Linked DNA regions of Homo sapiens. The protein of the gene in region 1 purifies or fractionates together with the protein of each later gene. This does not show direct contact. Each region holds a gene or a part of one and is shown in the gene's direction. Other genes may lie near its edges. The genes, in order: ZFC3H1, FBXW8, RBM45, MOV10, CARNMT1, ANKHD1-EIF4EBP3 and SLBP.

Region 1 (3,500 bases):
GCCTAGTTCTTTGTCCTCCTGGATGATCCTGACATGGTGGGTAGCATGAACCAGCACATAATGGACTTCATCTTTCCTACCACTAGTTTCTAAAATTCATGAATGAAGGCTACTCTTGCTGAGGGCACCCTCTACCTTCCCACTGTCCTTTCAGACCCCCTAGTGGCTGACCCAACACAAAGGTCAGAAAGTCCTCAGAAGCCTCTCCTGGCACCTGGCAGTGAGTCAGGGCTGGTTAAATCTGGATGAGGATAGTGCAGCCTGGAGGGCTTTCCTCGGAGATCACTGCACTCACTAGGTCCACCCTCTCTCCCAGATACTAGGAAGGGAAAACATGCCAAGTCCATAAAACAATAGCACCATCAAGTGTCTGACTATTAAACATTCAAATGTTCATGGGGCAGAACACTGAGCATAGACATAGCCTCTCTTCTCTCTGCCACCTAATAACACAAATGTGACACAGCAGCCACATCTGCAGCGCTATGTAAAATGTTCCAAAGATTAGTGTATATTCAGATTATCTCATTTGGGACTCAAGTCAACCCCATATAAGGCATGTGGATAATAATGTATTGACTTGTGAGACAACTGGGATAAAGAAGAAATGTTAGATTTTCTCTGATTATATAGTTAGTGGGTAGGGTAGTAAGAGTAGTCTTTGAAACTGCTGTATTTCAGTGAGCCTAACAAGTCATTGAAGATAAAATACACAATTATTTTTATCTGCTACCAAGGAAGAAAAATGCTGAGATGCATCAATTGTAATTATTTCAAAATTAAAATGTGAAAAAATGTGCACCTTATTGACTAAATACACTAAGTAATTCTTCTCATTCCTAGTTTTATTTACTTTCAACACAGCTTATATGGTCCATGTCCTCAACTTTCTTTTGCTCCACAAGAAGGGAATAATGAAGTCACCACATCATTGTTTTCCTTTGGCTAGGGCACTTTGGCAGAATTTAAGGGAATTTTTTGTTTCATTATTTCTTAAAAAATATGCTTGTGTTTTTTTTTGTTTGTTTTTTTAAAGTATGTTTCTGTCTTTTCCTGCTTTATTCCCTGTTCTCATCATTAGGTTAAAAGTGGAACAAAGTGAGAGTTTTGAGGGACTAATTATTAGTTTAAAGTGAATGGCTGACTTTATGATGATATGACAATTTTAAATGGCTGGAGGTGGACTCATGAGGGGTTTAAAGATTTTATCAGAGGTTGATAAAATCTAATTTGCACTCCACCTAGATGTATTTCTTCAAACATAACATAAACTTAATATATTCCTGATGAAGTATTTCTGTTATTAAACTCTTAACAAAAAATTTTTTTACAGCTCCTTCACCAGTGCAACCGCCATTTTTCTCTGAATGTTCATTGGGGTATTTTTCTCCAGCACCATCTCTTTCTTTGCCTCCACCACCTCAGGTTTCTGTAAGTCAGAATTGATTTCTAAGAAAATTATTTTGTCTTGTCTTTTCTAATTTGTTTTTAAAAACGAATGGTTAGGTTTGAAGAGGGCTTAAAAAATCAGAATTGCTTACCAAGAATTAATAGCAATGAAATACGTAGAATAAACAGTTGATTATACCAGCAAGCTATCCATTTGGTAGATTTTTTTCATAGCTAATTTTTAATTTCATGTTGACTTTTCGGTACCTATCATGTTTCCTTCTTCACTTTACTCTCAGATAGTAGCTACTCAGAAAATTTATTCAAAAACAGAAGTTATCTACTGTTTTGGACTGTCTCTTTTTTAGGGAATTGGAATTTACATGCATTAGGATGCTTCTAAAAATTAATACTCTCCTTTCTCCTCTTTTCATAAAAATGGTTATTTTTAACTTGAAAATCCAGCAAAAGAAAAGCATTTTCTATGAAGTTAATTTCTTTTCCCCCCCATCTCCAGTCCTCCCACTAAAAATAAAACAAAAAAATAAAAACAATAAAAGGAAAAGGAAAAAAAGGAAGTAGAGGAATCACACATTAAAAGTTTTGACATTATTTTTAGATTGAGAGGACCTAGAGATCAAATTGAGTATCTCTCAGTAGGTGTAAGAGGGAACTTTTCCGTTTCAGGAAAGACGTCTAGTGTCTTTCTAGAACATATATGGTGAGGGGAATATTAGAGCCGATAGTGAGAGAGAAAACAGCACTTTCTTCGTTGTAATGTTTTCTTTTTGGGAATGAATAAATGAACTAAATGCCAAGGGAAATAGTGGAAGATCTTTGATGCAAATACATATCCAAATTTAGGGATTTGTGTAAAATTAGTTTCCTTTATAGATATTCTTTAAGAAGCCATTTTAAGAGAGTAGTGGTGATTCTTCTTGATACTTAATTAATGATTAAAGTACTCTGGACTATTATTCACAGAATCCCTTGGTTTCTAATTTTTATTTTTTACTGAAATATTATGTCTTGGGTTTCAGTACCTCTACTTGCTTTCAGGTAGTCATCTAGAAGGAAGGACCCTGTATAGTTTGATATCTATATCTTCTAGAATGCTAAATGGATATAAGAATTGGAACAGAGAAGTTTCTATAATTTTCCTTGAAGTTAATAAATGTTTCAAATATTGTTGATTTTTTTTAAAATTGTAAAAATAACACTTTTTCGTGGTTGGCTATTGATTTCTGGTTTGTTTTGAGGTTAACATATACTTAGCTTACTATATTTACAGCTAAAATAATAATGTAAAGTTTATTTTTTTCTAGTTTAATATTGCTGCAGAGAGAAGCATTTGAGTTGATAAAATTTGCGTTGTAATTCTTTCTTTTTTTAAAAAATAGTCTCTGCCACCTTTGAGCCAGCCTTATGTGGAAGGCTTGTGTGTTTCTCTTGAACCTCTACCTCCTCTACCACCATTACCACCTCTCCCACCTGAAGATCCAGAACAGCCTCCAAAACCACCTTTTGCAGATGAGGAAGAGGAGGAAGAAATGCTGCTTCGAGAAGAACTACTTAAATCTCTAGCAAATAAAAGAGCTTTTAAGCCAGAGGTAATTTAGGTACCTAAACCTCTAGGTGGTGCTCTTGAGCTTAGCTTTACGGTAGTCCTACTTTTTTCTGGTTACTTGGGCATCATTGGGCTTTTCAGCAAAGTGGGGATAATTCTAACATGCTCAAGATTTTTAAAGGTGGCAGAAATTTATTTTTATTTAGGAATGTTTAATGTCTTTCTCTTCCTTATGTAGGAAACATCCAGTAATAGTGACCCACCTTCACCTCCAGTTCTGAACAATTCACATCCTGTGCCAAGAAGCAATCTATCAATAGTCAGTATTAACACAGTGTCTCAGCCTAGGATACAGAATCCAAAGTTTCACAGAGGACCCCGTCTTCCACGAACTGTGATCTCGGTAAAAACAAAAATTTAATGCTACTTTTATTCAAACAGTTATGATAAATTTCTATGAAGTTTAGCTGTCCTGTTTTCTACCCCTTGGTTTATTTATATACACACATATATTCACATATAAATACAAATTTTTAAAATTTAT
Region 2 (3,500 bases), about 45 Mb from region 1:
CTTACACTTCCTCCCTGCCCCCGTTTCTTCTCCAACCTTTGGCACTTTCATTAGTGCACCCTGTTGTATTTCTGGTGCAGTCTCCTCCACTTCAGAGTCTTCAGTATCCATCACTAGAGAGAGAACAACTAATAAGTTAGCAATCAAAAGTGAAGTTGCCTTTGGATGGGTAGGTGAGCAGTGCTGCCTTGGAGTGTCATCTGGCTGGTATAGGCCAGAACCTCTGATGGGCAAGCAAAGCTGACATGAAAACGCAGGACTCACTGGGCATGGTGGCTTATGCCTGTAATCCCAGCACTTTGGGAGGCCGAGGTGGATGGATCACGAGGTCAGGAGATCAAGACCATCCTGGCTAAGACGGTGAAACCCTGTCTCTACTAAAAAATACAATAATTAGCCGGGTGTGGTGGCACGTGCCTGTAGTCCCAGCTACTGGGGAGGCTGAGGCAGAAGAATTGCTTGAACCCGGGAAGCAGAGGTTGCAGTGAGCCGAGATTGCGCCACTGCACTCCAGCCTGGGTGACAGAGCAAGACTCCACCTCAAAAAAAAAAAAACAAAAAAAAAACAACGCAGGACTCCTCCCAAGCCTCATGTTTTATGAAGCTTTTAGTAATAGCACTTAGCAGCCATCTCTTTTTAGGTGATGAGTTGGGAATACCTCAGTTGGCACCTGATAGAGTTCTTAGTATAAGTAAACTAGTGAAAGAACACATCCCTGGTCAGAATTTCAGAGGCAGTAGGCACTTTCTCTGTTGTCTTCTCTTCTCCTCTGTTCATAAACCCAGGCTTCTTGGAGATAGTGGATATACCTGAGTATAATTGCAAGTGTGCTGCTTTCTTCAGTGGAGTGGCTGTGATACCAACTTGCTTGGGCTCCATTTTTATTTAGGTGGTGTATCAGGACTCTGGGCTGCAGGCAACAAGCACCCAACCCAAACTGGCTTAAAAACCCAAACTGGAATCTATTGATTCCTGTAACTGAAAATTCCAGGTGGTAATGTTTGTTCTGGGTGCTTACCTAAGGTAAGTAGGATTTGCCTTCTCTTAATCCTGCTTTCCTTTTGTTGACTTTATTCACAGACAGGCTTTCCTCTTGGGGAAAAATGGCTACCAGCAACTCTAGTCTTCTATCTGCTTAGCAACTCAAGGGAAAGAGAGCTGCAAGTCATGAACCTAAATTCCCATTGCTGCAAACTGGGTCATGTGTCCACCTTTCAGCCAATCACTGATTCAAATTGTTCAGACTCGAATCCATTGCCCATTCCTGAAGATGAAGGTGAGGTCAGCTCTGCCTAAATTGTGTTGACTAAGAGTGGGAGTGGGATGGTTTCCTAAATAGAGGAAGTGGATGTTGGGCAGGAAAAAAGAGCAATAACTGATATCCATTTTAGGTGGGTGTGTGACGCAGCACTAACTGAGAATACAGTAGTCCCACCTTATCCACTGGAGATACATTTCAAGACCCCCGGTGGGTGCTTGAAAATGCAGATAGTACTGAACCCTGTATATGCCATGTTTTTTTTTCCTATATACACAGAGCAATGATAAAGTTTATAAACAAGGCACAGTAAGAGATTAACAGCAACAACAAAATAGAACAATTACAACAGTATACTATAATGTTATATGAATGTGGGCTCTCATAATACTGTACTGTAAGTAACTGATGCTATGGAAAGCAAAACCGCGGATAAGGGGGGACGACTGTGTTTTCTGTTCATCCAACATATATTCATTGATCAGCTCAGTGCTGGGGAATCAGCAGTAAACAGAATGGCTCCTTGTCCTCAGAGAGCCTAAAGTCTTGTTTCTTTTAACTAAAAGAATGACATTAATGGAGTCAGGACAGTCTTGGCTATGGGGCTGGGCTCTGCAGTCAAGCAGACCTGAGTTCAGATTCTGGCTCTGCTGTTACCAGTTTGCCTTGGGCAAGTTAATTTCCCCTGCCTTAGCTGTCAAATGATGATGATGTTAGTACCTATCTCGTGAAGAGGCAATGAAATAGGCATGGAACTTAGCACTGAGCCTGGAGTACAGTAAGGGCCCAATAAATGTAAGCTGGTGCCATTATCGTTAGTACTCAGAGTTTGCTATGCTATTTTACTTCCTCTTTACTGAAGCTTATCACCGATAAGCCCTTAGCTTCCGCCTCTTGTGAATCCCTGGAGGGCAGGATCTGTTGCCTTACTGTTCTAACTCCACCTGCCTTACTAGTACAGTAGGGGCCCTATCTATGTTTGTTGAGTTGAAATAATGTGGGCAAAATTGCTGCTTCTGACTGCGACTTTATAAAGGCTCTATGATTGTTAGAACCCTTGAACATTCAAAGCATCCTTCCAGGTTAAGATATGGAGTTTTAGGTCTGCTGAAAGTTTTAATACTGCTGGCCAATATTTATCACTCACCATGTCAATATTTAACCTGTCAGATCCTGCATCTGTGTTGCCAACAAGATAGATTTAATGGCTTAACCTTCTTCTGTTTTTAAGTTAAACACAAATAAGTAAGCTCCCTAATGTGAACACTTTTCTTCTGGCTAATATGCAGTGAGACAGCAAACCAAACCAAATGTGTACTCATGAATTGACTTAACTGGAATAACTTCCTTTCCTCTTTCCTGTTCTTTGCCTGCCTTTTAAAGCTCAGCTTGAGTTCTGTCTCCTGTGTTAATTCTTCCGTGATTTCTCCAGCCCAAATTTCTCCCTTTCCCCCAACTAAAAAGTTCTTATCCTCAGTGCTGTTCATTTTTTCATGTTATTCGTGAATTAGCAGGCCTCCACTTACGAACCTTTTGAAATGATGCCTGTGTATACTAGAACAACTTGTGACTTACATGCGGTCTTTGTTGGAACGGTCTGCTGCTTGAAGCAGCTTGGGTTTCATTCATATCCCACAAATATTTATTAAGTGTCTTCTTGGTACCAGCCACTGTTCCAGGCACTGAGAATATAGCATTGAACAAGGCAGAAAAAAGCCTGTGCCCTTGTGTAACTTACATTCTGGGGAAGAGGGAGTTAGACAATGGACAAATAATTGTCAGGTAATAAATAAATGTTCTGGAGAAGAAATAAGCAGACAGGATAGAGTGTATCTGCCAGGGGAGGGGCTGTAATTTTAAATAGTGCTGTCCAACAGGGTCTTTCTGGGAAGGTCACATTTCATGGAGAACCTAAAGGAGGTGAGGAGTGAACATACAGAGATCTGGGGGAGGGGATTCTAGGCCAAGACGGGCAAGTGCAAAGGTTCTGTGGTGACCAGGACCCGCACTTAGTTTAATGCTCTGTTGCCTTGATCATTTGTAATGATCTTAATCATTTGTGACCAACAGGCCCCCCAAATTCTATAGCCAATCCTGATGGTGGGAATGTGCCTGCAGTGTTTGGGACCCTTAATGTGAACATCTTTACTCTTTTCACAAACCCACTGTGGTTTCAAAAACCACACCCACTGTGGTACCCCTCTGGGACCTGAAGCTTCTCCTCTTCCTGTCTTCTCTCCT
Region 3 (3,500 bases), on another chromosome or scaffold:
TTATTACTGATATCAGCCACAAGACTCTAGTGGGCCATTTCCATGTTACTCAATAGTTGTACTCATATGGTGCTTGACATATAGTATAGATTTATTGAAGGAATAACTAGAAGTAGACTATAAAGGGATATGTCTCTAACACTGTGGTTTTCTTGGTTGCTGCTTCCTACTGTGGAATTTCATAAGTTCCAGTTTTCTCATGCTTTAATGATACAGAGCCCCCTTTACCAGCAGTGGATCAGAGACCAAGATATAGAGACCCCTTTAAAGGAAAAAGAAACAAACAATGCAAGTGCCCTTGTTTATGGTGTTTTAATTAATTGTATTACGTTTCTTCAAATTACTCTGGCTAAAAATAAATGCAAAAGTAGAAATACATTTGGGAAAAACACAATGCAGAGATTGGTATTATCTCATAAAAAAAAGTCATTGCAGGCCCAGCACAGTGGCTCACACCTGTAATCCCAGCACTTTGGAAGGTCAAAGTGGGAGGATCACTTGAGCCCAGGAATTCATGACCATCCTGGACAACATAGCAAGACCTTGTCTCTACAAATATTAAAAAATTAGCTGGGTGTGGTGGTGTGTGCCTGTGGTCCCAGCTACTTGGGAGGCTGAGGTGGGAGGATCACTTGAGCCTAGAATGTTGAGACTGCCGTGAGCCATGATCACACCACTGCACTGCAGCCTGCTTTTTTTTTTCTTTGAGACCCTGTCTCAAAGATTAAAAAAAAGTCATTGCAAGAATAATTGCTTTTGAAAAAATTTAAGAAATGGGAAAATAGTTGACATTATTTTATTTTGGGAGTTTTGTTTGTTTCTTAGGTTTTCATTGCTCAGTCCCGATCATCTGGAAGTCACCGAGATGTTGAAGATGAAGAACTTACAAGAATCTTTGTTATGATACCAAAGTCCTACACAGAAGAAGATCTGCGGGAAAAATTTAAGGTATTTATTCTAATCAGCTAGCATATGTGATAACTCATAGTCCTGCATAGGTTGTATGGGTACTAAATCTGAAATGTTGTTGGAATAAGGTCAATAGAGTAGTCTTGGGGAATTACATAACTGCTTTCATCAATTTCAATCTACTCTTTAAATATTAAACCTAGCATAAATTAGTTTTTAAAATTAAAGAATATATAAAAGCTGGAAAATAGTAATGGTAGTCTCTCCCTACTTTATTGTGAAAGTAGAGATTCGCAGAAATGAAGCATAAAGCTCAGAAACTTTTAAGTAAAGTCACACAACTAGTAGGTGGTAGAGCTATGATTTAAACCCAGGCTGTCGGAGTCTGGAGCCTGCTCTTGGTCTTTAAAATTTCAAAGCACGCTTTTATCACTCCCCTCTATTGCCTGGCATGTAGAGGCGAATCAGGCAGACCTGAGTGTGTGAACTGTATTATCTAGTATTGAGAACGGGCCTATGGTGTGTTGACATGGTACTCATTCACAGAAAGGCTTATTCTTTGAAGAGTTTTTGTCCTAAAATTGGGCCTTTGAAGGAATTATATTTAAAGAAGAAAACGTAAATATAGCTCTGACCTATATAAGTGAAATTTGAGGATAATTTTATGTCTTTTTAGCCATTAACTTATGCAGTGATGAGCTTTCACACAAATTATTAAAAAGCAATTTTTTAATTGTTTTGAATTGTAGTTTTTTATCTTTTTTCTACTAATCCTCCCATGAATTGGGTGGCAACAAGCAAGAAAGAAAACAAGCAGTAAAAAGTAATTTTCAAACTTTCTCTCCTACCCCAATTGAGAATTCAATGAAATACTTCAAAAATAACAAATACCAAAAACGTATATTTTATACATCCTCCAGTAGTAAGGAAAATGTTTTTTACCTTAAATATTTATAAATTTTTCTTTTCCTGAATGAACAAATATAACACTTTAATGTATAGTAATTAAGTTGCTAATTGATTACATAAGAATTTATAAAATAAATAATAAATACCAATTATATTCCATATTTCTTTGAACATTGAAAGTAAACACTACTGCATGTTTCTCAGAATAGTAACTTTCTGAGTGAACCAGCATATTTTAGAAATACCCTTTGAAAAGCACTCCTTCAAAAGAATACACAATCATTTATGTTCCTGTTAGAAGACAGACAAGTAATAATAGCTAATGTTCTTTGAGTATGTTCCAAGCCCCATGTAAGCACTTCACATGTTTTACTTCAGTTAACCCTTAAACAACCCTGTGAGGTAGATACTACTGCTAGCCTCTTTAATAAAGAGGTAGGCACAGAGAGAATAAGTAAACTGCCTAATTAATGAGTGGTTGATTCAGGATTTCAATCTAGAAAGTTTAATTCCAGAGCTCTGGCTCTTAACCACTGTTGAGCAAGACTTTGGAGCTATCCAGACCATGTACAAATTCTTACTCTTCTGTGACTTTGTCCCTCTTTGATTTCTCTAAAGCCCAGCTTCCTTATCTATGAAATAAGCATATTTGCAAATACAAATATGCAATATCTGCATATTTTATACTGCCTATTTCTTTGTTTGCATGCAAGGGTCACATATAAACAAATTTTTAGTTCTGAAATACTCTGTTCAATTAATTTTAAGTCCCCTAAAATCATGTCTTTTAACTCTCTTAGGTGTATGGAGATATCGAGTATTGCAGCATTATTAAGAATAAAGTGACTGGAGAAAGTAAAGGTTTGGGCTACGTACGATACTTAAAACCATCACAAGCTGCCCAAGCAATAGAAAACTGTGATCGAAGTAAGGATGTGTTTAACATTGTTAAAAACTTTTGTAAAAAATTCTGATTATTCTAAATAGCTGAATTTAATATTAGTTTTTGCTAATAACTGTATCTGCTAATGTAATTTTAGCAGTGGGTATTTAAATATTTACAGTCCAAGGAAGAAAAATATTTTGGGGTTATGATTAAACATTCATTGAGGCACTATCTTGAAGAAATAAGAGCAACTACATTAACTTAGTAAGTGAAATGCATACTTTGGGTATTATTTTTATAGGTTTTTAGGGTTTTTTAAGTGTATTTTAGAATTTTAAGTATTAAAAACTTGACTTACCTTTTCAAGGTTTTTAAAATATTCTTTATATTTGTTTATATTTGATCTACATCCCAAAGACTATAAAGTATAACTAATAAACCTATAGGTTAAGGGTAAGATTTATAAGATGTGCTAACATAGGTAACTGATATAGATAGGGTTAATTTCAAGCTAGAGTGACATGAATGTGATCTTCTGATGTTGCTGTATATATAAAGAATAAGAATTTTAAAGATGTCAAAGAGAATATTCTTTGTTGGTATACTTCTAGTTAGGTATATTGACCTTTAGAAATGATATGTAGAGTAATTAAATTACTGGATTTTAGGACATTATAAAAATATATACTTACTGGAAAGAATTACTGTTAATCAGTAGAATTCTTAGATACCCCTAAGGTACATACCCAGATTTTCTCTTAGATCCTTCTAAATTTCTCATTTAGCTAGCAGTAAT
Region 4 (4,223 bases), on another chromosome or scaffold:
AAGTTCCATTGTAAACAAAGCCACATAGCATCACACTTTTTACCCAAGGTTTTACTATACTGCAGACTTTTGTGTACGTTTTGAGAACATCCAAGACATAAACCTGACCAGAGAAGAAGGGAGATTGTATCCAAGAATAATAGGGATTTAGATTTGCTGGTCAGAATGGAGCCAGACATTCAGTTTGAGTACGGTTGATGGTACGTTTTTGAGATGGTAAGTAACAAGGCAATTTTTAAGAGTTCACCCTCTCTATTCTTCTGGAACCTCATCAGGACATTGAGGGAGAAAAAAGGTAAAATCTTTGGCTGCTTTTCTAGTTTTTTCTTCTACTTTGCATAATAAGTTTGTAAGATGTTTTCCTCTGCCCTATTTTACCCATCCCCGTAGCTTTGGTTCCCACTGACATTGCATTTCCTGTTGCTAAAGCCTGTTATTCCTGGCTTCATTTGGTTGTTGGCCTGAGAGAAGGTACCGGGTAGCCCAGCTGGAGTATGACCTGGGTTCTGGACTTTCTTCAATTCCGTAGATTGAGTGTGTGGCCTCCTGCTGGTAGCTACTATGGAGAACAACACTAGCTTTGATTTATTTGAAAGTGATGTATTTGATTTAAAACTTTGTAGTGTAACTTAGCTTGTCCCATTCTAGTGTGTGTGTCATTTCATTCTGCGGGAAAAAAATAGATACAAAGGTTTGTTATTGTAGCCCCACCCCCTTAAATTTGTCTATACAGTCTTCTGAAGCACACTGCCCTTTTAGTTCTCTTCTTGGTACTGATGCTGTCACTATTAACCACTTATTATTGCCTAACACAACAGTCCCTTACGCTCAAGATGCTAGTATTTTGATGAATATAAGGGTCCACCTTATATACCAGTAAAAATTAAAGAGCAATACAGACTGGAATGCAACGAAGCGCCCAAATATGTGGCTCAGGGGTAAGGGTCGGTCACCAGCCTTTCCACATAAGCCGATGTGGCAGAGAAAAGCAATTACTGTGTATCCTGGCAGAGCCCCTTGTCCCTCCCTCCCACACGTACACACCTTTATCTCAGAGACACTGGGTTCTTTTCCCCAAACTTCTTTGACCCTTATGCCAACTACGTGCGTCTGAAAGCCCGAGAAGGGAAAATGGGGGAGGGGGCGTGTCGCCCCGAGTTTACGTCCCTGGAAGGCTGGGGGAGGCGCTGGATGAGCTTCCCCATTCCGGCCGCAGCCGACCTAGATCCCAGCCCTGCCCTTTGCTCTCCTGCTTTTCACTGAGTCCCGAGGCTCTGGAGGGTGGGCGTGAGGGTAGCCCTGGCTGAGGCTCGGAGGTCCTCCCGGGCTGTTCAGAGGGCCCCAAGCGGTAGCCACGTTCTGATACTGGCTAGAAGCCAGGGGAGGGAGCTTGGGGTAAGGGGAGGGCCCTGAGGGAGGGGTCAGACGCTTTAGGAAAGAGTTAATGCGAAGAGGGGGAGGGGATAGGACGAAGAAACCGAAGGGAAAGCTCAGGTAAGAAAAGAACGGAGGAGGGAAGCCTGGTGGGGAGAAGGGAGCCCGCAGGATCAGGGGTCAGAGTTAGGGGGCTTCCCTCCTGCTGCACCCTCATCTCAGGGCCGCCAACTTCCAGCTGCAGCGGCGACTTTCAGTTTCATTTCCACGGACCCTCCTGCCTGGGCCGCAGCCGCCGCCGCGATGCCCAGTAAGTTCAGCTGCCGGCAGCTCCGGGAGGCGGGCCAGTGTTTCGAGAGTTTCCTGGTCGTTCGGGGACTGGACATGGAGACAGATCGCGAGCGGCTGCGGACCATTTATAACCGCGACTTCAAGATCAGGTACGGGCCGGCCCACTCCCGGCCCCGAATCGCGGGCCCAGCTTGCTGCCACGACCCCCGCGCGAGGGCCACCTTTCCCGCCCCGGGGCGCAGAGGGACGCAGCTCCCCCAGCGGCTCAGGCCAGTCCCGGGGCGGCGCAGACCTCCCCTCCCGCGCCTCGCCCACGCCCCACCAGCGCCGCCCGGAGCCCGCCAGTTCTGCCCGAGCTGGGCCCCTGCGCCAAGTCGCCGCGGAGAGCCTCCCGCGCTGCCCGCGCCCCCGGAGGCCGGAACCCGGGGCCGGGAGCTGCGTCCCGCGTCCATGCGCCGCTCGCGGGGGCTGAGGGACAGCGCTCGCGGTGGGGGAGGGGAGCCTCCAGAGGGGGCCCAGGCATCGCGGGAGCGCGGGTTAGAGGCTGCCTGTTGGGGGCTGCGAGCCCGAGCGCGGGCTTTACAGGGACCTCTGCCACCTTGTTGAGGCGCTGCTGCCTCGGGGGTCCGCTATCTGGGAGAACTGAAGAGGCCCAGGGTAGAAGGGAGAAGCTCAGGAAGCTCTGGAAAGAAGAAAAGGGCACAAACTACGTGCGTACCAAACCTCCATTAGCACCTGTGGCTTCTCCATGGAGACCCAGGGGCAGAGCCAGCCTTCTGGAGGCTCCCTTTCACCCTGTGGCTGAAGGCTCTTTGGTCTCCTTTTCCTGCTACCACCCAAGTGAAAATCAAAGAGTCTTCTGTCACACCACAGAATTGTGCTTCAAAAACACGTTTATCAACAGGCTGCTGCCTTGCGTGGAAAACCAAGAAGCAGTTTAACAAGGGTAAACGTAAAGACTTGTACAAATAAACATAAGGTAGTGGGAATCTGGGCTTAATAACAGACCTCCCGAAAAAGACCTTGGGTTTTAGCAGACCAGAGGGCCAGTATGGGTGAGATATGGCTGCTAAAACAGCTGAAGTCTAAGATTGAGCTAACAGAAGTGTGATTTGGGGTGGGGGAAAAGGGTAGAGACTCTCCATATTGGTGAAATCGTGTCTGGAATATCGTTTTCACTAATGGTTATCACATTTGGAGAGGGATATTAACAGGCTTGAACAACATCTGAGAAGGGGCAAAGATGATGAGGCCCTGTTTTATGTCACCATGCTGGACACTATGGGGACTCTTAAGATGAAAAACACACAATCCCAGAGGAGCATCAGAGGCTATGATATGCATGCAATATACATGTACACAATATAGGATAGTACATGGTAAAATGGAGGATTATACTAGGGATGGTAAGAGAAAAATGCTGGAGGAAAGAGCGAGCATTTGCATCACATGGTATCAACACTTAAGGTATGTGAATTCACCTATATCCACAGAGTACAACATGGCTAGGAAACAAGTCACCTACTTCTTTTGGCTCTGTTAAGGAAAAAGTAATTGGTTAAAACAGTAAGGCTGACTTGACTCAAGGCTATGGTAATAGGGTATTGCAATAGGAAAGAAGAGAGTTGGAGCTCAATTCCGAATACAGCAAAAACAGCGGGGGATTTATGACCAATGAACAGAGTAAGGGGATCAATATATAGAAAATTACTAAGAGGAGTCATAAAGAGTGGGAGGATTTTTGCTCACCTGACCTAACAAGATTCTTGTTAAAGGCAGACCAAGGACTTGTACATCAAAGGCGGGAATGAGGAACTTGATCAGATATCAAGCGTGGTCATGCATCAAGGGTGAGGAGTCTCACTAAAATGACTTCAGTATTCTTGCTAAAACTGAACTAGGTGGGCCTAAGACTGAAGGGTTTGGGGAGGCAAGGTCAAGGGCTAGTCAAAAAGAGGGCTCAGGGGAGTCTAACAAAAGTTTGATCAAGGAGAGTCTTTGTCAGCTCTAAACCAAAGGTACATAGTATGTTTTAGTACTGGGGAAAAACTGGTTGTGTTGGATTGCATACAGAAAGCCAGATATACTGTATATTATGGGTGAATGTAGGCATTTTCCAAAGTAGTTTTTACTGTATGCACTTGTGTTTATGCAGATAAGATACCACTCCTCTGTAATCATTAGGGGATGTGATGGAGAAGATGGCATTGACTTTAGCCTTGAAAGAGATAAAATTTTAGTACATAGAGGAGGTGGAAAGGCCTTCTATGTGGGTTCATATTCTATCCTGAGACCCAGTGAAAGAAACTCAGAAATATTTGCCTCAAAAATAGAAAAATCAGACAGTACAAGGTAATTATCCTTGACTATTTTGGAGTGTTATAATGGATAAGATTGCACTCCTGTGTCACTCCAGAAGACAGAAGCGGGTTTCATCAACTATCCCCGCTCTGTACCCTCATCATGTTGGGGAAATGTATGTTCAGATTAAAGAACTTGCCTACACATCCTTTAAAGCCAGGCTGGAATGCTGTGAAGTCAACCTTCATTTCCCAGTA
Region 5 (3,004 bases), on another chromosome or scaffold:
CTAAGAAAACTATGCGTAAAATATGTCTTTTTTTTTTTTTTTCTTCAGAGACAGGATCCCGCTCTGTCTCCCAGGCCGGAGTGCAGTGGCACGATCATAGCTCACTGTAACCTCAAACTCCTGGACTCAAGCGATCTTCCTGCCTTAGCCTTAGCCTCCTGAGTAGCTAGGACTGTAGGCATGTACCACCGCGCCTGGCCTGTGTCTATTTTATCATTCAGATTAATTTAATTTTGTATTTTCTGGCTCAGATGAACTTAAAGAAGCATCAAACATTTCTTTTTTATGAAATGTTAAATTTAATAGCATCACAGGCCGGTAAAATATATTCAAGTAACAGAAATATCAAAGTCTTTTGGCCACAATAAACTGAACACTTTATGAAAGCATACTCATCATGGATCACTTTGAAATATACGAGATCTCAACATTCAAAGTGAGAAATAAAAAGCCTTTATTAAAAGTAGTGCTAGGAAACAGAGAAAATAAGAATAAAATTTACCCATTTGAAATATGTGATTTTCAGACTCTAAATGAATACAGAGTTTGACAGTGTGATGTTTACAATAATGTCTTTTCTTTAGAATATCTGGATTATGAAAGCAAGCACTTTTTTCATTAAAAAAATTATATACTAGGAAAAACTGTCATAATAGTATTAATGTGGGGAATTTTGATTATGAAATTCAGGGATATATTACTGCCCGTGGTCTGTGTCTTCAATATTGTAAGCAGCAGCCATCATGTAATTTCAGATTAATACCAATTTTGTTCCCTGATAGATGGAGCTTAAACAGTATATGCTGCTTTAAATTTCTACCTCTAGCAGATCTTTATTGGAGGGAGTTTTCCTTTGTATTTTTTAATGTATGATATTCTGTTTCCAGTAGCTTGGAAAGTAGAGATGACTAATGTTTTAGCCTTTTCTTGGAGAAAAGGAAGAACTCTTCTTGAATATTTTCACAGATGATTGTGATTGCTTTAAATGACCTCTGTGGCAATTTAAATTAGATGGATTTAATCTCAGTAATGTGCTGGTCGCATAAATGTCATGTTTTAATAGGAAAAGTTACTTGTAAATCTTTAGACCTTTGTTGTCACTTAGGCTGGGGAGTCACTACCCTATTTGGCATCTTACTAGTTGGGGGGACCTTTTCCGTGTACAGTGATGGGACTTTTGTGACCTTTACTCTCACTATGCAATAGAGGGTTTCATGTAGTTAATCTGACATGTCAAAATTGGGAAGACTGTAACCTTTTTTTTTTTTTTTTAAGATTTCTCTTTTTTGTGTCCCTCAATACTTAGCAGATGTTCATTTGGTGGAAATTCTTATTACTTACATGAATGAGTTTGAATTTAGTGGCAAGGAAGAAAAAAAAAACTCAAATTATTGTTTTAAAAGAAGAAAACTTGCAAAGTACATAAGTATTTTTTAAAAATCAATCGAACAGAAAGGAATGCATGCTGTTTTTCAATGGCTTAGACATGCTTTTTATTCACTGACTAGTATTCACTTTTTTACAACTTGTATCAAAACAAATGATCTTTGTTTTTGTCACAGGCAAAAACAGGTTGACACTGGTGGGTTGGCTTTATTAATTAATTTTTTTTCTATTAGGTTTTCTTTAATAATGTTAAATTTCTAAATTATAGCATATGTTTTAGTTAATTCTGAAATCAGTTACTTCATTTGTTAATTTATCCCTCATATCATGAATATTGTTTTTTAAATGTTCTATACAAATTTGCATCACTTCTTTTCTTACAGCTTTTGCAGTTAATATATTCTAAACTTGAAAATGTGGTATCAATCAATAATAGAAGTATCACTGGAGGATTTATTTAGCTTTGTATTTCTTAATTTTAGTCCTAGCTACTAAAGTATGTAAGCCTTAAAGTTTAAAATGTTTTTCTTAAATTAGCTTTATACACAAACATTTTCATTTACTTTATGAAATGGGAGGAGATAGTCCACTGTGCTTATGTTTTTTTGTTTAATTTCTATATTCTGAAGCAGTGCAGATATAGGGTATGCTAATCAAGTGAGCAAGGTGGAACATGTACAATATAAGGAGAAGCTGTAAAAATCACAGTATAAAATTATGAAGTTTGGTAACTGTAAAATGTACTGTATTTATATGTAACTCTCATTCTAAAAGTTGCCACAAAAGCTGAATTGGAAGCTTCATGTCTGCATGAAATTTCCTATATTTTTAATGTGTATGATGAAATTAATTTTTCTTGAATATTAAAGTCTGCCAATTGCTATGAAACGATAGTTGCTTGGTTTTCATCTAAATTAATGTAACTATAGATGTGGGGATTTTAATGAGTTGAGCATATATACTTTTGAACTCTTGGATTAGCCTATTTTTATATGCTTCTAAGAAGTCAGTAACATGAATACTTCGCCTTATAATATGCCAGGCCTTATACTAACTATTTTCACTTTGTTTCATTCAAGTTCACTGTAATAAAGTTAGAATCCATTGAGGAAAATGAATAATCTTGATTTTCAGTTTTGTTAAATAATGGAAAAAGAACTATAAAAGGAACTAGTAGAAGACAGTTCTAGGACCAGCCATCAGTGGGATGAGCACTTAGATCTTCTGGGTTCATTTTCCTGAATGATTGTGATCTCAGGCAAGCCACTCTTTGGCTTATTTCCTCATCTGTAAGAGAGGATTAATACCATCTATTTCAGATGGTTTATTAGGTCATATGAGCTTTTATATATATTTTTGTGTGTATGAAAGCACATGATAGACGATTACCATAAATGTAATTTCAGTCTGTGTTGACTGCTATATAGTGATGGAAAAAATGAGGATTGTTAACAGGACATTAGTTTTAATTATCTTACAGTGACCCTTTGAAAAAGATTTCCGTGGAATCCTGGGGAAAACAGTAAAAAATGGTAGGTACAGATACAGATTCCAAAAGTTTGTTGGGAATTATAATGAAGTATAATAGTAGGTAATGGGTGAGGGCATAAGTAAAATT
Region 6 (3,500 bases), on another chromosome or scaffold:
TCTTGCTTTTTTTCTTTCTCATGTCTCAGTAATTCTAGAACTAAAGTACTAATAATCAACTTTAGATTCAGAATACATGTCAGCTCATCATTGACCTGAGGCTTTATTTTTTATTGCTAAGTATGAGCTGTTGATACTGGTTTAAAATGAATATGCTAGCATAGTTATTCTGTGTGGATTTTAATAATATGGTATTCATTATTTTAACAGGGTCATTGCAGTTTAGTTGATGTGTAATATTTTGGGCAGATTTGAATGCTTATATTGTGAGTGATTTAAATATAATTTTTGTTTTCAATGGCAGTGTAATTTTTAAAATTAGGTTCTCTGAAACTGCAGAGCAATGTAATTTTTAACTTTACTAAATTCAATTCAATATTACAAGAGATCAATTTCTAAAATAAAAACTTTTAATAATTTCCTCTTTAGCATTTAAGAAATGTTATTCTCCAAAATGTCCATGAACATACTTACTAAGACATCTTTCTTAATAAAGAGACATTTAATTTCATAAGCTCATGTGTATTCTTCATTTTATAGGTCAAAGAAATTGTCTGTTCCAGCCTCAGTGGTGTCGAGGATAATGGGAAGAGGAGGATGCAACATCACTGCAATACAGGATGTTACTGGTGCCCATATTGATGTGGATAAACAAAAAGATAAGAATGGCGAGAGAATGATCACAATAAGGTAATTGTGCAAAATGTATACTGCTAGTTCTGAGTAGAAATTATAAGAAGCATACCTTTGTCAGGTATGGTATAATTAAGAACTTTATTTGATGGTTAAGATTACCTTTTTTTTTTTTTTTAATGTTTTTGGTCTTGTTTCTGTTTTTTTTTTTCCCTTAGGGGTGGCACAGAATCAACAAGATATGCAGTTCAACTAATCAATGCACTCATTCAAGATCCTGCTAAGGAACTGGAAGACTTGATTCCTAAAAATCATATCAGAACACCTGCCAGCACCAAATCAATTCATGCTAACTTCTCATCTGGAGTAGGTACCACAGCAGCTTCCAGTAAAAATGCATTTCCTTTGGGTGCTCCAACTCTTGTAACTTCACAGGCAACAACGTTATCTACGTTCCAGCCCGCTAATAAACTTAATAAGAATGTTCCAACAAATGTACGTTCTTCTTTCCCAGTTTCTCTACCCTTAGCTTATCCTCACCCTCATTTTGCCCTGCTGGCTGCTCAAACTATGCAACAGATTCGGCATCCTCGCTTACCCATGGCCCAGTTTGGAGGAACCTTCTCACCTTCTCCTAACACATGGGGACCATTCCCAGTGAGACCTGTGAATCCTGGCAACACAAATAGCTCTCCAAAGCATAATAACACAAGCCGTCTACCTAACCAGAACGGGACTGTTTTACCCTCAGAGTCTGCTGGACTAGCTACTGCCAGTTGTCCTATCACTGTCTCTTCTGTAGTTGCTGCCAGTCAGCAACTGTGTGTCACTAATACCCGGACTCCTTCATCAGTCAGAAAGCAGTTGTTTGCCTGTGTGCCTAAGACAAGTCCTCCAGCAACAGTGATTTCTTCTGTGACAAGCACTTGTAGTTCCCTGCCTTCTGTCTCCTCTGCACCTATCACTAGCGGGCAAGCTCCCACCACATTTCTACCTGCAAGTACTTCTCAAGCACAGCTTTCTTCACAAAAGATGGAGTCTTTCTCTGCTGTGCCACCCACCAAAGAGAAAGTGTCCACACAGGACCAGCCCATGGCAAACCTATGTACCCCATCTTCAACTGCAAACAGTTGCAGTAGCTCTGCCAGCAACACCCCGGGAGCTCCAGAAACTCACCCATCCAGTAGTCCCACTCCTACTTCCAGTAACACACAAGAGGAGGCACAGCCATCCAGTGTGTCTGATTTAAGTCCTATGTCAATGCCTTTTGCATCTAACTCAGAACCTGCTCCATTGACTTTGACATCACCCAGAATGGTTGCTGCTGATAATCAGGACACCAGTAATTTACCTCAGTTAGCTGTACCAGCACCTCGAGTTTCTCATCGAATGCAGCCCAGAGGTTCTTTTTACTCCATGGTACCAAATGCAACTATTCACCAGGATCCCCAGTCTATTTTTGTTACGAATCCAGTTACTTTAACACCACCTCAAGGCCCACCAGCTGCAGTGCAGCTTTCTTCAGCTGTGAACATTATGAATGGTTCTCAGATGCACATAAACCCAGCAAATAAGTCTTTGCCACCTACATTTGGCCCAGCCACACTTTTCAATCACTTCAGCAGTCTTTTTGATAGTAGTCAGGTGCCAGCTAACCAGGGCTGGGGAGATGGTCCACTGTCCTCACGAGTTGCTACAGATGCCTCTTTCACTGTTCAGTCAGCGTTCCTGGGTAACTCAGTGCTTGGACACTTGGAAAACATGCACCCTGATAACTCAAAGGCACCTGGCTTCAGACCACCTTCCCAGCGAGTTTCTACTAGTCCAGTTGGTAAGTTATTAACTATTGCTGCAGTTGAGTTTGGAGCTCCTATGGCCTAATCTCACCTTAAGTGGACAAAAAAAGTAGCAAGAGGTAAATCAGTCACATATAATGAGCTGCTTTAGATTCTCTCTATGATTTTTCTGTCCCTCATAGTAAGGAAGTTATACCATAGTGTAAGTCCATTTTCTTGGAATTGGTGTCTATTCATATTAATAAAAAAAACTCCAGGGATGTTTCAAGGATTCCAAATTTACAGACTTAAAAAAAAAATCATAGTGATTGTTTGCATTTCTTAGATTTAAAAAATTGAAGTTGCAAAGGTGTTTAGGCACAAGTTCATAATTTACATTGTTTAATAGTACTCTTGTTTATTTTAGGTATAGCTATTTGTTTTTTATGTATTTTATTTTTTATTTTTATTATTTTATTTTATTTTTTTGAGACAGGGTCTCACTCTATCACCCAGGCTGGAGTGCAGTGGCCCAGTCTCAGCTCACTGTAACCTCCGCCTCCTAGGCTCAAGCATTTCTCGTTCCTCATCTTCTCAAGTAGCTGGGACTACAGGCATGCGCCACCATGCCCGGCTAATTTTTTGTATTTTTAGTAGAGACGGGGTTTTGCCGTGTTACCCAGGCTGGTCTCGAACTCCTGTGCTCAGGCAATATCCGCCTGCCTTGGCCTTCTAAAATGCCAGGATTACAGGTGTGAGCCACCGTGCCCAGCCTAGATACAGCTATTTGAAGAGACCCAGTCATTTATAGGCTCTTACTTTTGAAAGACCAGTGTAGATTTAGCTGTTGCTTCTTTGAAATTATAAATTAGCTGCCGAGGCATTATGAGAAATATATAGACAGATCTGAGGTCAGTTTTGGCTTGGAGATATTTGGAGAACCAGAATCTATTTTCTATGGTTTAAGAGCCAAATTTTAGTCTAATCTGCACTGTTCTGAAAAACAAATTAAAAATGTGGCCGACCCAGAATATGGCACTATTGCCTCTTAGCATTTCTCTTCCAGTTGGAAAACTGCCCCATATTCCATGC
Region 7 (3,500 bases), on another chromosome or scaffold:
AACTTACTGTGCCATATTTTTATGGCCAGCTTATACAGGCACTCGATAAGCCTTTTTCCCAACACCCCATCTCTACTAAAAATACAAAATTAGTCGGGCATGGTGGCGCATGCCTGTAATCCCAGCTACTCGGGAGGTTGAGGCAGGAGAATCCCTTGAACCCAGGAGGTGGAGGTTGCGGTGAGCCGAGATCACGCCATTGCCTTCCAGCCTGGGCAATAAGAGTGAAACTGTCTCAAAAAAAAAAAAAAGACAAAAGACTTGGGTCTACGGGTGGGTACAGAAGAGGCCCTAGGTCCAGATATGAAGGGAAGGTAAACAAACCTTATTGAGATCAAGCTCTGAACTCTCCAGTGGTCTCATTTAGCTGAAGATAAAAATATTAAATCCTTACAGTGCTTTAGAAGTTATGGAAGTTTTTGGTGTCCTCATTCCTCAAACTATAGGAATGCTTCTGTCCTAGGGCCTTTGCACTTGGTATTTGCACATTGTGGATAATGCCTGGAGGCACCTGACAAATAGAGCCAGCTCGTTGATGGATAAGATCTAGAAGTACTCTTTGGAAGGTTGTTAGCTTAGTGTGTAAAATTAGGCTTTGTTGTCCCAAGATAGGGTAGATTATGAATATAACCTACTTAATCTAAGAAATGGACTTAAAGATACCAAAATATGGCATGTAGTATATGGTCATTCACATACACAGGCTTTAAATTATTCTTGTAGTTCAGGAATTTGTTATGTTGGCAGACCCAGACTTGAACCTCTTGATACACTAGTGAGGATGCTTGTATCCAATCCTGGACAAACCTCTATTGAGTCAATTTAATTTTCAGTTAATTACCTAATTTGATTTCATAACTTTCTACCATTTTTAGAATCTGGAAATTTACTTTTAGAAATCCAATTTAAGTTTATCTGAGTTGTGTGACTGTAAGGGAAGAAATGATAATTACATAAGAGGATTATTCATTTGTTACTGCAATTGCATTTTCAAAGCACAGCATTTGGTTTACAGCTAAAATAGGTTGCTTATTTGTTGTAATTAAAGTTAGTATCTAGTGTATTTTTTTGTGACGGGGCATAACTGTCAACCAGGCTGGAGTTCAGTGGTGTGATCTCACCTCACTGTAACCTCTGCCTTCCAAGTTCAAGCAGTTCTCCTGCTTCAGCCTCCAAGTAGCTGGGACTACAGGCATGCGCCACCACGCCCGCCTGATTTTTTTTTTTTTTTTTTCGTTTTTGAGATAGAGTCTTGCTCTGTCGCCCAGGCTGGAGTGCAGTGGCGCGATCTCAGCTCACTGCAACCTCTGCCTCCCGGGTTCAAGCAATTCTCCTGCCTCAGCCTCCTGAGTAGCTGAGATTACAGGTGCGCACCACCACGCCTGGCTAATTTTTGTATTTTTAGTAGAGACTAGATTTCACCATGTTTGTCAGGCTAGTCTCGAACTCCTGACTTAGTGATCAGCCTGCTTTAGCCTCCCAAAGTGCTGGGATTACAGGTGTGAGCCACTATGCCTATCCTAATTTTTGTATTTTTAGTAGAGGCAGGGTTTCATCATGTTGGCCAGGCTGGTCTCAAACTCCCGATCTTGTGATCCGCCCGCCTCAGCCTTCTAAAGTGCTGGGGTCACAGGCATGAGCCTGTGCACCCGGCCCAGTATCTAGTTTTAATGTCAGTAGTGATCAACAGAAAAATGGGGTAGAAAAATAAAAATGTGAGTTTATGTCTGATGTATAAATAAGATACATCAATTTGAACTGCCAGAATTTGGGGCTCGAAGCCTTAAGCTTTTGGATTTCCTGATTATTATTTTTTAAATTTTAATTATTATTTTTTTTAGATGGAATCTCGTTCTGTTGCCCAGGCTGGAGTGCAACCTCCACCTCCCAGGTTCAAGTGATTCTCCTGCCTTAGCCTCCCGAGTAGCTGGGATTATAGGCACCCACCACCACACCCAGCTGATTTTTGTATTTTTAGTAGAGACAGCGTTTCACCATGTTAGCCAGGCTGGTCTTGAACTCTTTTTTTTTTTTTTTTTTTTTTTTTTTTTTTTTTTTTTTTTTTTTTTTTTTTTTTTTTTTTTTTTTTTTTTTGAGACGGAGTCTCGCTCTGTCGCCCAGGCCGGACTGCGGACTGCAGTGGCGCAATCTCGGCTCACTGCAAGCTCCGCTTCCCGGGTTCACGCCATTCTCCTGCCTCAGCCTCCCCAGTAGCTGGGACTACAGGCGCCCGCCACCGCGCCCGGCTAATTTTTTGTATTTTTAGTAGAGACGGGGTTTCACCTTGTTAGCCAGGATGGTCTCGATCTCCTGACCTCATGATCCACCCGCCTCGGCCTCCCAAAGTGCTGGGATTACAGGCGTGAGCCACTGCGCCCGGCCTGGTCTTGAACTCTTGACCTCAGGTGATCTACCTACCTCGGCCTCCCAAAGTGCTGGGATTACAGGTGTGAGCCACCACGCCCGGACTATTATTTATTTATTCATTTATTTTTTGAGACGGGGTCTCTCTCCCCCAGGCTGGAGTGCAGTGCACGATCTCGGCTCACTGCAACTCCGCCTGGTGGATCACTGCAACTTCCACCTCCTGGGTCCAAGGGATTCTCCTGCCTCAGCCTCCCTAGTAGCTGGGATTACAGACACGCGCTGCCACGCCTAGCCAAGTTTTTGTATTTTGGTAGACGCTGGGTTTCACCATGTTGCCCTGGCTGGTCTGGAACTCCTGAGCCCAGGCAGTCTGCCAGCCTCAGCCTCCCGAGGTGCTAGGATTACAGGAGTGAGCCACTGCCTGGCCATAAATTTCCCAATATTGACTGAAGACTATCTTGAACTTGAGATGGAACTGAGCTCCTGGATGTGGTTTAACTCAAGCACAGGGGGTACTTTGCCAGTAGACGGAGTCCTGACACAGCAAGGACTCTGACATATACTCCTCCATACACATTGTAATCATAGTGTACATAACATTCTGAATTATTAATTACATGCGCCCGAAAGGTAAATGGATATGCTAGCTATTCTGTATTTTATTTATTTTCTGAGACGGAGTCTCTTGCTGAGGCTGGAGGAGCAGTGGTGCAATTTCGGCTCACTGCAACCTCCGTCTCTGGGGTTCAAGCAGTTCTCCTGCCTCAGCCTCCCTAGTAGCTGGGGCCTACTGGTGCGCACCACTGCACCTGGCTAATTTTTGTATTTTTATTAGAGATGGGGTTTCGCCATGTTAGCCAGGCTGGTCTCAAACTCCTTACCTTGGGTCATCCACCCGCCTCGGCGTCCCCAAAGTGCTGGGATTACAAGTATGAGCCACTGTCCTCTGCCACCATATATATTTTTTTGAGATATGGTCTTGCCCTGTTGCCCAGACTGGAGTGCAGTGCCAGGATCATGGCTCACACAGCCTTGACCTCCTGGGCTAGAGTGATCCTCCTGCCTGGGCCTCCTGTGTAGCTGGGACTACAGGCACGCCCCACCATGCTTGGGTATTTATTTATTTTGGAGAT

What was found.
Region 2: the proteins of ZFC3H1 (region 1) and FBXW8 purify together in Homo sapiens (affinity purification with mass spectrometry; 2 studies listed by BioGRID and IntAct, with this or other methods). This does not show direct contact.
Region 3: the proteins of ZFC3H1 (region 1) and RBM45 purify together in Homo sapiens (affinity purification with mass spectrometry; 2 studies listed by BioGRID and IntAct, with this or other methods). This does not show direct contact.
Region 4: the proteins of ZFC3H1 (region 1) and MOV10 purify together in Homo sapiens (affinity purification with mass spectrometry; 2 studies listed by BioGRID and IntAct, with this or other methods). This does not show direct contact.
Region 5: the proteins of ZFC3H1 (region 1) and CARNMT1 purify together in Homo sapiens (affinity purification with mass spectrometry; 2 studies listed by BioGRID and IntAct, with this or other methods). This does not show direct contact.
Region 6: the proteins of ZFC3H1 (region 1) and ANKHD1-EIF4EBP3 purify together in Homo sapiens (affinity purification with mass spectrometry, with the first as the bait; 2 studies listed by BioGRID). This does not show direct contact.
Region 7: the proteins of ZFC3H1 (region 1) and SLBP purify together in Homo sapiens (affinity purification with mass spectrometry; 2 studies listed by BioGRID and IntAct, with this or other methods). This does not show direct contact.

What each region holds. Positions count from the first base shown.
Region 1 is NC_000012.12:71,636,349-71,639,848, reverse strand, and holds part of ZFC3H1 (zinc finger C3H1 domain-containing protein), read left to right. Parts: intron 1-365; exon of another isoform or gene 366-494; intron 495-1,333; coding exon 1,334-1,431; intron 1,432-2,789; coding exon 2,790-2,999; intron 3,000-3,194; coding exon 3,195-3,359; intron 3,360-3,500. UniProt on the Homo sapiens protein: Subunit of the trimeric poly(A) tail exosome targeting (PAXT) complex, a complex that directs a subset of long and polyadenylated poly(A) RNAs for exosomal degradation. The RNA exosome is fundamental for the degradation of RNA in eukaryotic nuclei.
Region 2 is NC_000012.12:116,917,450-116,920,949, forward strand, and holds part of FBXW8 (F-box/WD repeat-containing protein 8), read left to right. Parts: intron 1-1,081; coding exon of another isoform or gene 1,082-1,282; intron 1,283-3,500. UniProt on the Homo sapiens protein: Substrate-recognition component of the Cul7-RING(FBXW8) ubiquitin ligase complex, which mediates the ubiquitination and subsequent proteasomal degradation of target proteins.
Region 3 is NC_000002.12:178,115,437-178,118,936, forward strand, and holds part of RBM45 (RNA-binding protein 45), read left to right. Parts: intron 1-825; coding exon 826-948; intron 949-2,618; coding exon 2,619-2,745; intron 2,746-3,500. UniProt on the Homo sapiens protein: RNA-binding protein with binding specificity for poly(C). May play an important role in neural development.
Region 4 is NC_000001.11:112,673,236-112,677,458, forward strand, and holds the start of MOV10 (helicase MOV-10), read left to right. Parts: upstream 1-1,423; 5' UTR 1,424-1,494; intron 1,495-1,502; exon of another isoform or gene 1,503-1,612; 5' UTR 1,613-1,677; coding exon 1,678-1,814; intron 1,815-2,255; exon of another isoform or gene 2,256-3,515; intron 3,516-4,223.
Region 5 is NC_000009.12:74,980,290-74,983,293, reverse strand, and holds the end of CARNMT1 (carnosine N-methyltransferase), read left to right. Parts: 3' UTR 1-2,504; downstream 2,505-3,004.
Region 6 is NC_000005.10:140,527,333-140,530,832, forward strand, and holds part of ANKHD1-EIF4EBP3 (ANKHD1-EIF4EBP3 protein), read left to right. Parts: intron 1-19; exon of another isoform or gene 20-96; intron 97-540; coding exon 541-690; intron 691-851; coding exon 852-2,464; intron 2,465-3,500. Other genes in the region: ANKHD1 (ankyrin repeat and KH domain-containing protein 1), read left to right, coding at 541-690, 852-2,464. UniProt on the Homo sapiens protein: May play a role as a scaffolding protein that may be associated with the abnormal phenotype of leukemia cells. Isoform 2 may possess an antiapoptotic effect and protect cells during normal cell survival through its regulation of caspases.
Region 7 is NC_000004.12:1,705,820-1,709,319, reverse strand, and holds part of SLBP (histone RNA hairpin-binding protein), read left to right. Parts: intron 1-3,500. UniProt on the Homo sapiens protein: RNA-binding protein involved in the histone pre-mRNA processing.